Linked DNA regions of Homo sapiens: region 1 is linked to region 2. Evidence: fine-mapped expression QTL. A gene starts in region 2. The other region holds a variant in brackets. All regions are shown on one strand. Distances are from middle to middle. Region 1 overlaps RIOK2 (RIO kinase 2). Region 2 holds the start of LIX1-AS1 (LIX1 and RIOK2 antisense RNA 1).

What was found. PIP is the estimated chance that this variant, and not a neighbour inherited with it, causes the effect.
Region 1: its variant is the best candidate, but not a certain one, in a credible set for the expression of LIX1-AS1 in whole blood (INTERVAL, PIP 0.87).

Annotation. Positions count from the first base shown.
Region 1 is chr5:97,172,190-97,177,578 of GRCh38, forward strand. RIOK2 (RIO kinase 2) reads right to left here. Exons shown (of 10, transcript NM_018343.3): 4 at 4,927-5,102; 5 at 986-1,074. It also overlaps the pseudogene RNU1-73P. Among named protein-coding and RNA genes, the nearest start is that of RIOK2, 8.4 kb to the right of the region's middle. The variant G/A (reference allele first, on the strand shown) is at 2,677.
Region 2 is chr5:97,070,821-97,076,209 of GRCh38, forward strand. LIX1-AS1 (LIX1 and RIOK2 antisense RNA 1) reads left to right here and starts at 2,905. Exons shown (of 8, transcript NR_187470.1): 1 at 2,905-3,018.

The DNA.
Region 1 (5,389 bases), 100 kb after region 2:
TGGTTTAAATACCACATATACACTGATTTTAATGTAGACTTCTCTAACTCCCAGGCATCTCAAACTTAGCATGTCCAAAATGGAATCTCTGATTCTGTCCCACCCTCCAACTCCAAAATGCTGTTCCTGTAGCTTTCCTGTTTCTATACATGGTAGATTTCTCCTTCCAGTTAATTTGCTACTCAGGGGAAAAACCTTGGTGTCACCATTGACTCATCCCTTCCTTCACATCCATATCCAATCTCAAATCATGTTGGTTCAACCTGCAGAACACATTCAGAATCTGACCACTTTTCATCACCTTCACAACTATCACTGTAATCAGAATTACAACCATTTCTTGCCTAGATTATTGTAATAGCCTCTTAACTTGTCTTCCTAATTCTTTGTCTCCCCAGAGTCTATTAATTCAGCAAGCAGAGTGACCCTCTGAAAACACTGAGATCACTGATTGATGAGATCACATCTCTTCTCTGCTCAAAATACTCCCACTCCAATAGCTGCTAATCTGAATCAAAATTTGATGAGGTTTCACCTTATTAGTGAGACTTTTCTTGACCACCCTACATAAAACAGTAGTCTCCTGTCCCGTTAGTACTTCCTATCTCCCTTACTCTGCTTTTTTTTATCCATAGTACTTACTAACAATTGATATACATTTCCTTTAGTTATTTATTGCACATCTCCTTCCATCAGAATGTAAATTCCATGAGGGCAGGGACTTTGTTTTGTTCACTGCTGAGATTAAAAGTTCCTGGCACCTAACAGTCTCTTAATATTGAATGAATGAATGAATCACAGAGATTACAAAGTTCATATTGTCAGAATGAAACTGGGTTTTTAATTTGTCTTTGAGTCTATTCCTTTAAATAAATTTTAACCTCCCAGAGGCAATATTTCATTAACTAAAAAAAATTTTATTAAAAACCCTGAAACTTAAATTCATTTATCAGGATTCATGGCTTTAAGAATAATGAATACTTACAGTGGATAACCATTTATGAGTTCCATGACCACTGCATGACGATTGTAATCAATTGGCTTTGGAACTGGAAATTTCCTCTCATACAATGCCTAAAATGTTGCAAAACAGGTGTAAGCTAATGAACAGGTCATTACTCTTTAAAGAACAATAAAAGTAAATATACCTTTCTACAACCAGAAAAAAAACACACAAACCTTTATAAAATTGTAGTTAACACATGGTTATTTATGCATAGCTTATTTATTCACTGCGTAGAATTAGCCACACATAAAAAGCAAATTTTAAACAAAAGTTTGAATTCACTTTTCCACAAAAAATGAACATTTACAAAATGTTATGCACTGTGCTGGGGTTACAAAAATGAATGTTAAAAAGTTTCTAAACACTCTAAAATTAGTGTCAAAAAGCCCCCAAGAAGCTTACAGTCTCTTAGGGTATATCCTTTCCTATTTTGTAAGTCTCTGACATTTGTTGAAATGTGCTCAAAATATTTAAATTGGAAACAAATTTAGGAAATACTCATCTTCGGACATATTAGGAAATGAGGCATTCTAAGAGATCAGACATTTTGGTTTATAGGGCACTGAACTTTTTCTCCAGGCCACAATATGCAATATAAATCTATTATGTGAAAAATATACACTGTTGTAGTCTGATTCAAGTGTTAAGACTCTCCATACATCTTTTCCCCTAAGCTTACTGTCTTCAATCTTACTGTTTACAAAGCCCTGTTATTACTTTCTTTAAAATACCTTAGATTTATGCCCTTTGACATTTAGAATGCTAGTATTAGGAATGGCAAAAACTGCAATTACTTTTGCACCAACATATACTTGTAAGGAGGCATATACCTCATTACTCCACAAGTGTTCTAGCTCTTGCCATCATACCTAACCTATTCTATGTACCAATACCAGACTAACCTGCTGATGTTAATATTCCATTTAAAAATATATACATTGGGATGGGCATGGAGTCTCACGTCTGTAACCCCAGCAATTTGGGAGGCCGAGGCGGGTGGATCAGTTGAGGTCAGGAGTTCGACACCAGCCTGCCAGCATGGTGAAACCCCATCTCTACTAAAAATACAAAAAAATTAGCCAGGCGTGGTGGCACATGCCTGTAGTCCCAGCTACCTGGGAGGCTGAGGCAGGAGAATCGCGTGAACCCGGGAGGCAGAGGTTGCAGTGAGTTGATATCGTGCCACTGCATTCTAGCCTGGGTGATAGAGCAAGACTACACCTCAAAAAAAGTTTTTTTTTACATTGGCTGTAAATTTTCTTTTCAGTTTGTAAATATAAACTTTTCCTGGTTTTCAAAACTCTTTAATCCACCTGTACAGTCCTAGTTCTCCCAATATTCTCTCCAATACACACCAAGAAACGCAGTCAGGACAGTCACCTCAGTGTCACCTAAACACATAGGACTCACATAGATTCATGTCATTGCCCATACCACTTCTCTGCCAAAATGCACTGTCTTAGGGTCAAATAATATCCAAGCTTCATGGCTCCACTCAGCTCCACTCACTACCTGAAACCTCCTCCATCAACTATTCTATCACTTACTGAAGTTTCTCTAAATTCAGTATATAATTAAAAAAAAAATTGTTCTTAGACTTGCAGTGGTGGCTCACGCTTATAACCCCGGTACTTTGGGAGGCCGAGGTGGGTGAATCTCTTGAGGCCAGG[G/A]GTTTGAGAGCAGCCTGGGCAACACAGCAAGGTCCTGTCTCTACAAAGCAGGCATGGTAGCACATGCCTGTGATCCTAGATACTTGGGAGGCTGAGGTGGGAGGATGGCTTGAGCCCAGGAGGTAGGGGCTGCAGTGAGCCGTGATCGTGCCACTGCACTCCAGCCTGGGTGACAGAGTGAGACCTTGTCTTGAAAATAAATAAATAAATAAATAAATAAATAAAAGGTTCTGTTTCATGTGTTATCTTCTCAACTTTAAGACACAGATCGTACTGGTTATTTCTTTGGCATCCACTCCTTCACCCTACACTACCCCAGCAATTAATTTCAAAAGGTTGTCTATTGCTTACCTTCTGTGAACAAGAACCAAACCACTTCCCACTTCCCAGATATTTTTCTTTGCTTTGTTTTTAAATACTTTTTTTCAGTGTAGACCATTTTGAGCATACCTAGACAGATCAATAGCACGTGATAAACTTAAAGATTGTGAATATTTGTCTAGAACTTGTGCTATCGCCTAGACCTCATGCTATAGCCCAATCTTTATCTTCTTGTTCCTCTCTTATGAATAATCAATACATTAAGGAGTGCATTTATGTGCAACCAGATTCCATTCCTATACCTTCAATATAAATATCCTGAAAAACACCTACTACCCTTTTGGGAAAATGTGTAAATGATCCCTACCAAGCTGCTCATTTACTGACTGAATATTACAAGATACAAACTATTAGTATAAGAAGTACATTGACATGTATGGTATCAGTATTACTAATTTATGCTGCCTTAAGAAATCTCCCATGATTAGTGAAAATTTAAGTATATAACCCACTCAAAGAACAAGCTGAATCCTCAAGAAACAGGTGTTCACACACTGTAGCAATCTTTAATTCACATTGTTTTGAAAAATGAAGATAAACTATGACAAATCCTACTGGCAGGATTATAAAAACACAATATTATCTTTTGTTTAACTTAGTTATTGTTGGATATATTTAATTTGGATATTATTATATTTAACAATCTATGCTGAACTTAATTTTGAAGGCAAAGTTAAAAATAAAGGATTTTTTTTTTTAATGTCAGGGGACAGTATAAATGTAGTCCGCCAGTGCCACAAAATATGCAGTCAAGTTCCAATATTTGGGGAAACTGCAGGGGTCAGCACACCTGAAGTGCAATGAATAGGCCTAACCCTGAGAAAACCGTCTTTGAGATTTTGACATTTCATCTGCCAGGTTAAGCATTTTTTTCTATTTGTATAAATGTATGAGGTACATGTAACATTTTGTTAAGTATATATGAGAAGTCATCAAGTCAGGGTATTTAGTGTGTTCATCTCCTGAGTACAATACATTTTGTTTACTATAGTCACCCTACTCTGCTATCAAACATTGAATGTATTCCTTCTAATTGTATGTTTGTATCCTTTAACCCACTTCTCTTCATCCTTACCTCTTAAAAACTAAAGATTTTTACCATTTTTGTTTTTTGAGACAGAGTCTTGCTCTGTTGCCCAGGCTTGAGTGCAGTGGCACAATCTTCACTCACTGCAACCTCTGCTTCCTGGGTTCAAGTGATTTTCCTGCTTCAGTCTCCCAAGTAGCTGGGATTACAGGTGGCCACCACCATCCCCGGCTAATTCTTGTATTTTTAGTAGGGATGGGGTTTCACCTTGTTGGTCAGGCTGGGCTCCTTACCTCAAGTAATCCGCCCACCTCGGCTTCCCAAAGTGCTGGTATTATAGGCATGAACCACTGCACCCAGCCAATTTTTACCATTTTTAATATACATATAAATCTATAAATGTTTGTTCCTTTATGTGAAACAAAAAACTAGCCAACTTATCTGAGACACTAAGGTTTCTACAGATGATAATTACCTGGTGTTTTCAATTAGAAACAGACATATGTATAGTTACATATATTGAATAGATATATATACATCCACACATACATATTTGTGAGGTAACAGCATCATTAATTACTTTTGGCTCTTTCATCTTGTCAGCATTACAGAATGTGTTGCCCTTATGCATTAGTAACAATTTAAAATACCTTAACGTAGAAGGAAATCACTTAAAAGAGCCCAAATAATCAACAGAGTTATTTAAGATTGAGTCTGTCTGTAGGAATTGAGTCTAAGGTTAGAGAGATGTGGGGACAACAGAATCACACTTGTCATTAAGGCCTTTGAGACACATGTATTATTTGGCTAAAAAATGCATGACTACAAAATAAAATAAATACCTTCATATAGGCAAATTCCTTCATGGCAGAGAGACGAGATAAATATAGCCATGACACATTGTGCCTATGTTTATGATAATCGCGTTTGTTTTTCAAATTTCGAAACGAGGTTCTTCCTAGTCTGTGAAGCTTTAATGCAAATTGTTGTCCTTCTTCATTTGCAACAATGTAAATATCTAGAGACAAAATTTCAAAAACAACCATTATTACACGTTTATTCCAATCAGTTAAAACAATTCTAACTTTCTCTAATTTTATTTGTATCAAAAATGTCATTTTTCCTAATAAAGATTGAGTATCCCTCCTTATCCAAAACCTTCGGACCAGAAGTGTTTTGAATTTTGGATTCTGGTATATTTGCACATAAATAATGATATATCTTGGGAGTTATTAGAAGAAAATTAATTCCTGGTATAAATGAATTTTCAGTGATAGACGTTCAGAGAAAATAATAACCTACTAA
Region 2 (5,389 bases):
CAAGAATCAGGCAGCCTCCCAAGACAGAGTAGGCTCAGAGATTCCAGCACAGCCACGTGCTGAAAGAAGATTTATGGACAAGTGGGGTACAGAAAACGGAAGCGAGGTACAGAAACAGCTGGATTGGTAAAAGCTCAGCATTTGCTTTATTTGAACATGGTTCGAACAGTTGGCTACATTTGATTCATCAAAACTTAGTAATTGGCACAAGTGTAGACTATGGCCTGTTTACACCTCCACTTGTCATAGTTCATGATGTACAGAGAAACCTTTAGGCCGAACTTAAAATATGTAAGGAGGCAGCTTTAGGCTAAACTTGATTTAACAAACCTAAATGGAATTGTAAACAGACTGTAACCTGCTCTTGTGCCAATCACCAAGTTTTGGCCAATCAAGCGTGGCCAACTGTTTGAACCGTGTTCAAATAAGACAAACGCCAAGTTGTGACTAATCCAGCTGTTTCTGTGCCTCGCTTCCATTTCTGTACGTCACTTTCCCTTTTCTGTCCATAAATCTTCTTTCACCACGTGGCTGTGCTGGAGTCTCTGAGTCTACTCTGGCTCAGGAGGCTGCCTGATTCGCGAATCATTCTTTGCTCAATTAAACTCTTTCAAATTTAATTGGCTAGAGTTTTTTTTTTTAGCAGCTTTTAAAATATTTTACTAGATTGTATTTATGGTTAACAGTATCTTGCACTACAATTTATATTTAGATAATCATTCATTTTAAAATTATTTATTGAGCACCTACTATGTGTTAGGTATTAGGTACAGAGCAATGAATACAGCAAGCACAGTTCCTCACCTCGTGGACCTGACACTGTAGTGTGAGAGATAATAAGCAAATGATATAAGGCCATGCAGTAGTTAAATGCTATGAAGAAACATAAAATCTGGTACAGGGACAGAGAGTAGGGAGGGAGCTCTTGTTATAAAGGGTGGCCAGGAAAGACCAAGTTGTGTAGCAGAGGCCTGAAGGAAGCCAGGGACCAAGCCATATGAATTTTCTCAGATAGGTGTATTCTAGTTATAGAGAACAGCAACTGGAACGGTCCTGAGAAGGGAACATTCCTGGAACATTCAAGAACTAGCCAAGAGATCAGCAAGTCTATAGTAAAAAGAAACATAGTAGATAGTCATCTAGTGTTTTCTTCTCTTCCTTCCTATTATCTCTCATACCATGTCATGTTACTTTTCTAAAGGATCTCAATGGGGAAGAGAACATCATTGTCTTTAAGATTCAATTTTTTGTGTATTGAAAGTCTTCATGGTCATTCTTTTGAGATCATGACCTACTACAACGTCCCCAGGCCTGCATCCTCCACAGGTGAGGTTTCTTTGCTTGGCTTCAGCAGCCTTTCAGACAGCTGCTCATGCATTATGTATTTATAGAGGACTGACCACGTCCAGGCACGATTTGCTGAGCTAGGTTTACAGAACCAGGCTGCTTGTATTAGAATTGAAATGCTTAGCATTTTCAGGAGTCACTTTTTTCCCCCTGTAGTGCATAAATACGGTATATCTTTATACTACCAGTTTCCCATTTAAAAAGTATTATTATTGTTATTAAGTATTAACCATTTGTCTAGTATCATGGAGTAGAAAAGAGGCACAAAAGAAGTTTGTATTGTGCCTGTGGGAGTTTCACCTCAAAGCGGGAATCCCAACTTGAGCCAAAGTTAAGTTTGCACCGACATTCAGTCACCATCTGGGGGATTTGGGAGGGAAAACGAGTGTCTTCTGTAGTGGAAAAGGCATGTTAGTATGGAGCTTTGGTCCAAAGTCAACAGATCAGTGTTAAAGAGGGAGAAGTTTAATACTCAGCCCTTGTGGACTCATGTCCTTGGGAGAAAGACTTCAAAAAACATTCCGTAAAAACCAGAGAAGCTGTTTCCTGGATATCTGCTAAGGCAGCTAGAGCTTAGGTCAGCACAGCTTTGCAGCCTGAGTGTCAGACAGCAGCTCTGGGGCTACTGCCTGAACAGGAAAGTGGGCAAACCTCATCCTGAATTGAGAAGATGTGGGAGTAGACCTCATCCCTTGATGGTCTTAGTTTCCTGGCAATGGCAGGAGCAGCTGCGATTTTGGCAGGCTTGGCCACCAGTGGTGGCATTTATACAGACAGGAGGCAGGGAAATACCGGGTAGAAGAGGGAGGTTCCCTCCCAAAGGCCCCACCCTCAAGCCTGGAAACCCATGACTTTAAATGGGAATAGGCATTCTTGTTTTTGCACCCAAATGTTGCCTTTTGGCCCACCATGTCCACCCCCCATCTTGTACCAATATAAACCCCAAATTGCAGGCTCCATGAGCAGAAAAGCAGACGAATAGAAGAGCAGAGGAACAGAAGAATAGCAGTGTGGCCGAGCAGCGTGGTAGAGAAAGAGGGAAGAGAAGCAGCATCTGAATGTTGAGAGGAGTTTGGCTGGGGACAGTCGGAGAGGAGATTGGCCGCAGGACGACCCAACTCCAGGGGAGGAACATCTTCCTACTCCATTCGCTTCCCCACTCCCCAGCCATTCCACTGAGAGCCACCTCCATCTGGCAATAAAATCTCTTGCATTCACTATCCTTCAATTTGCCTGTGTGACCTGATTCTTCCTGGATGCTGGACAAGAACCCAGCATCCAGGTACCAAGAGGGCACTGGGCTGGATAACACTTGAGCTGTCTGTGGACGGCAGAGCTAAAAGAGCACTGTAACATGCCCACTGGGGCTTTGGGAGTTGCAGGCACCCACCCTGGATGCTACTACCATGGGGCTGGAGCCCAAAAGTGTTTGCCCCGCCTCCTGCACCTGCCCGTCTGCATGCTCCCCCTCCAGTAAGGGGTTTGAGTGCACAGAGGCTGAACAGATGAGCCACACCCCTGTCACACATCCTGTGAAGGGGGTTAGGAAACTCTCCCATTTCATCTTGACCATCTTTGAGGGACTATTGATGCTTTTGGTATCAGCAGCCACAGAATTCATCAGACACAGCACAAAAGAGCAGGAGAAGAGATAATGGCAGATGCCAGAAGGTAAGAAGGAATTCGCCTGTGAGCAAGTGTGAGCTGTGCCCTGGGGGTATCTTAAGTGCGGGAGAAATTCGAGAGAGTTGGAACTTCTAGAAGTGGGAAGTGAAGGACAGAGCCAGAGAATGATACTGTTGTGGTCATTGTGATATTATTTTTATCCCCAAGATGTGGTATCTGGAGTGAGGTACAGAATATAAAGCCTAACCCTAGGCGGGCGCGCGTGGCTCACGCCTGTAATCCCAGCACTTTGGGAGGCTGAGGTGGGCGGATCACGAGGTCAGGAGATGGAGACCATCCTGGCTAACACGGTGAAACCCCGTCTCTACTGAAAATACAAAAAATGCCCCGGGCGTGGTGGCGGGCGCCTGTAGTCCCAGCTACTCCGGAGGCTGAGGCAGGAGAATGGCGTGAACCCCGGAGGCGGAGCTTGCAGTGAGCCGAGACCGAGCCACTGCACTCCAGCCTGGGTGACAGAGCAAGACTCTGTCTCAAAAAAAAAAAAAGAAAAAAGCCTAATCCTACATATACGACTAAGGAGATAGAGTATCTTGAATTTAGACAAGGCGATTAAGTCTCTATCATGGACTGAATGTTTGTGTCCCCTCAAAATCCATATGTTGAAGCCCTACACTCAATGTTATGCTATGAGGAGGTAGGCCTTTTGAGGGGTAAATTAGATTGAGCTGAGGGCATGAGCATGGAGCTTCCATGGTGGGATTACTTGCCCTTATAAGAAGAGCAAGAGACGCCGGAGCTTCCTCTCTCCACCTAGAAGGTGACCATTTGCAAGCCAGGAAGAGAGCCCTCACTAAAACCCAAATCTACTGGCACCTTCATCTTAGACTTCCCCACCTCCAGAACTTTGAGAAAATAAATTTCTGTTGTTTAAGCCACTCAGCCTAACCAGTACATGACCAATGATCTTCCTCTAGTTTAGCAGCAAATATTAAATATTTTCATTCACCTATTCATTTATTTCATTCAACCAGTATTTCTGAAACACCTATCCTGTGCTGTGAAGTACTGATAATGGATTAGGTACTGAGCTAGGAGATGGAGATTTTTGTTTTCATGGGCTCCCATTTTGTAGAGCAGAGATGCATGAGCCAGCACCCCTGAAATATTTGTTATTTCCTGAAGCTCCATGCTGTCTTCCAACTCCATGTCTTTGCACAGTTGTTCCCATTGGTACACTTTTCTTAACCTGCCCCACCCAACAGTCTATCTTGAAAGTTCCTGTTTATCTTTCAAGACTCGGCTCAGGTATTACTTCCTTCCCTAATTCTTCCTAGACATGCCTTTTCTGCGTTTATATTGAAAAACTAAGCCTTAGAAAATTTAAACAACTTACCCAAGGTTATATAACCATTAAGTTTAAGAGCAGGAATGCAATCCCAGGTAAGTATGGCTTTACCTTGGCTCCTGTGTAGACTAACATAACACGGAGTTATATAATCGAGAGAACACACTGGGCTGGGAGCCAAATGCCAGATCTATTTCATGTCATCTATGTGACATTGGGTAAGTCATGTAAAATTCTCAAGCCTCAGTTTTTTTAAATCTAAAAAACAGGGATGAGAAAGTTATCTCACAGGATAGTTGTGAGAATTAAAATATGACATTTAATTAGAAATCATGTAGCAAAGTGCTTAGCTCAATGAATATTTATTAGGAAAAGATATTTTAGTCTTCTTAGGCCTGATCATATAGGCCCATGAAGCTCTTGTGTTTGTGTAAAACACTTTCTTTCTCTTGTGTGCGTGCTTCAAATGCTCACTCGTTAGTCAACAGCAGCTCCTGGGTAATTGTCTTGAGGATCTGAGGTTAGATCAGTAGCTTTCTAGCTAAAAATGTCTCCCGGAGGAGCAGAAGCATATTTCCATATCGGCTTCTAAGTCTCCTATGTTTTTGATTACAGCTGTGTGAAATGAATGGAAAAAGACTGAAATGATTAAGTAACTCTGCTGCTCTCCATTGGTGATGGGGAGTGAATTTGACAGGAGACGAGCAGACAAAGTCCTAGGATTCCAAAGAATTTTAATGGGCAACTGAATGTTAATAATTGTCAGAGCAAGACTCAGATGATCACATCAAATCCTCACAGGCATCTTATGTTATTTCCTCTACATCTTACACAAGTGGGAGACAACTAATAACATGGCCCGTGTACCATGATGCAGCCCAGAACTATGAATTTGACGAGGACATGGTTGATGATATTCCTTCTCTAAATACGATCCTCAGACCAGAAGCATCAGTGTCACTTGGGAAGTTGTTAGAAATACATTTTAAGGGCCCCACTCCAGACCTACTGCACCACAGGCTATGTTTCTAAAAGATCCCCAGGTGATTCTCAGCTTTATTAAAGTCAAAA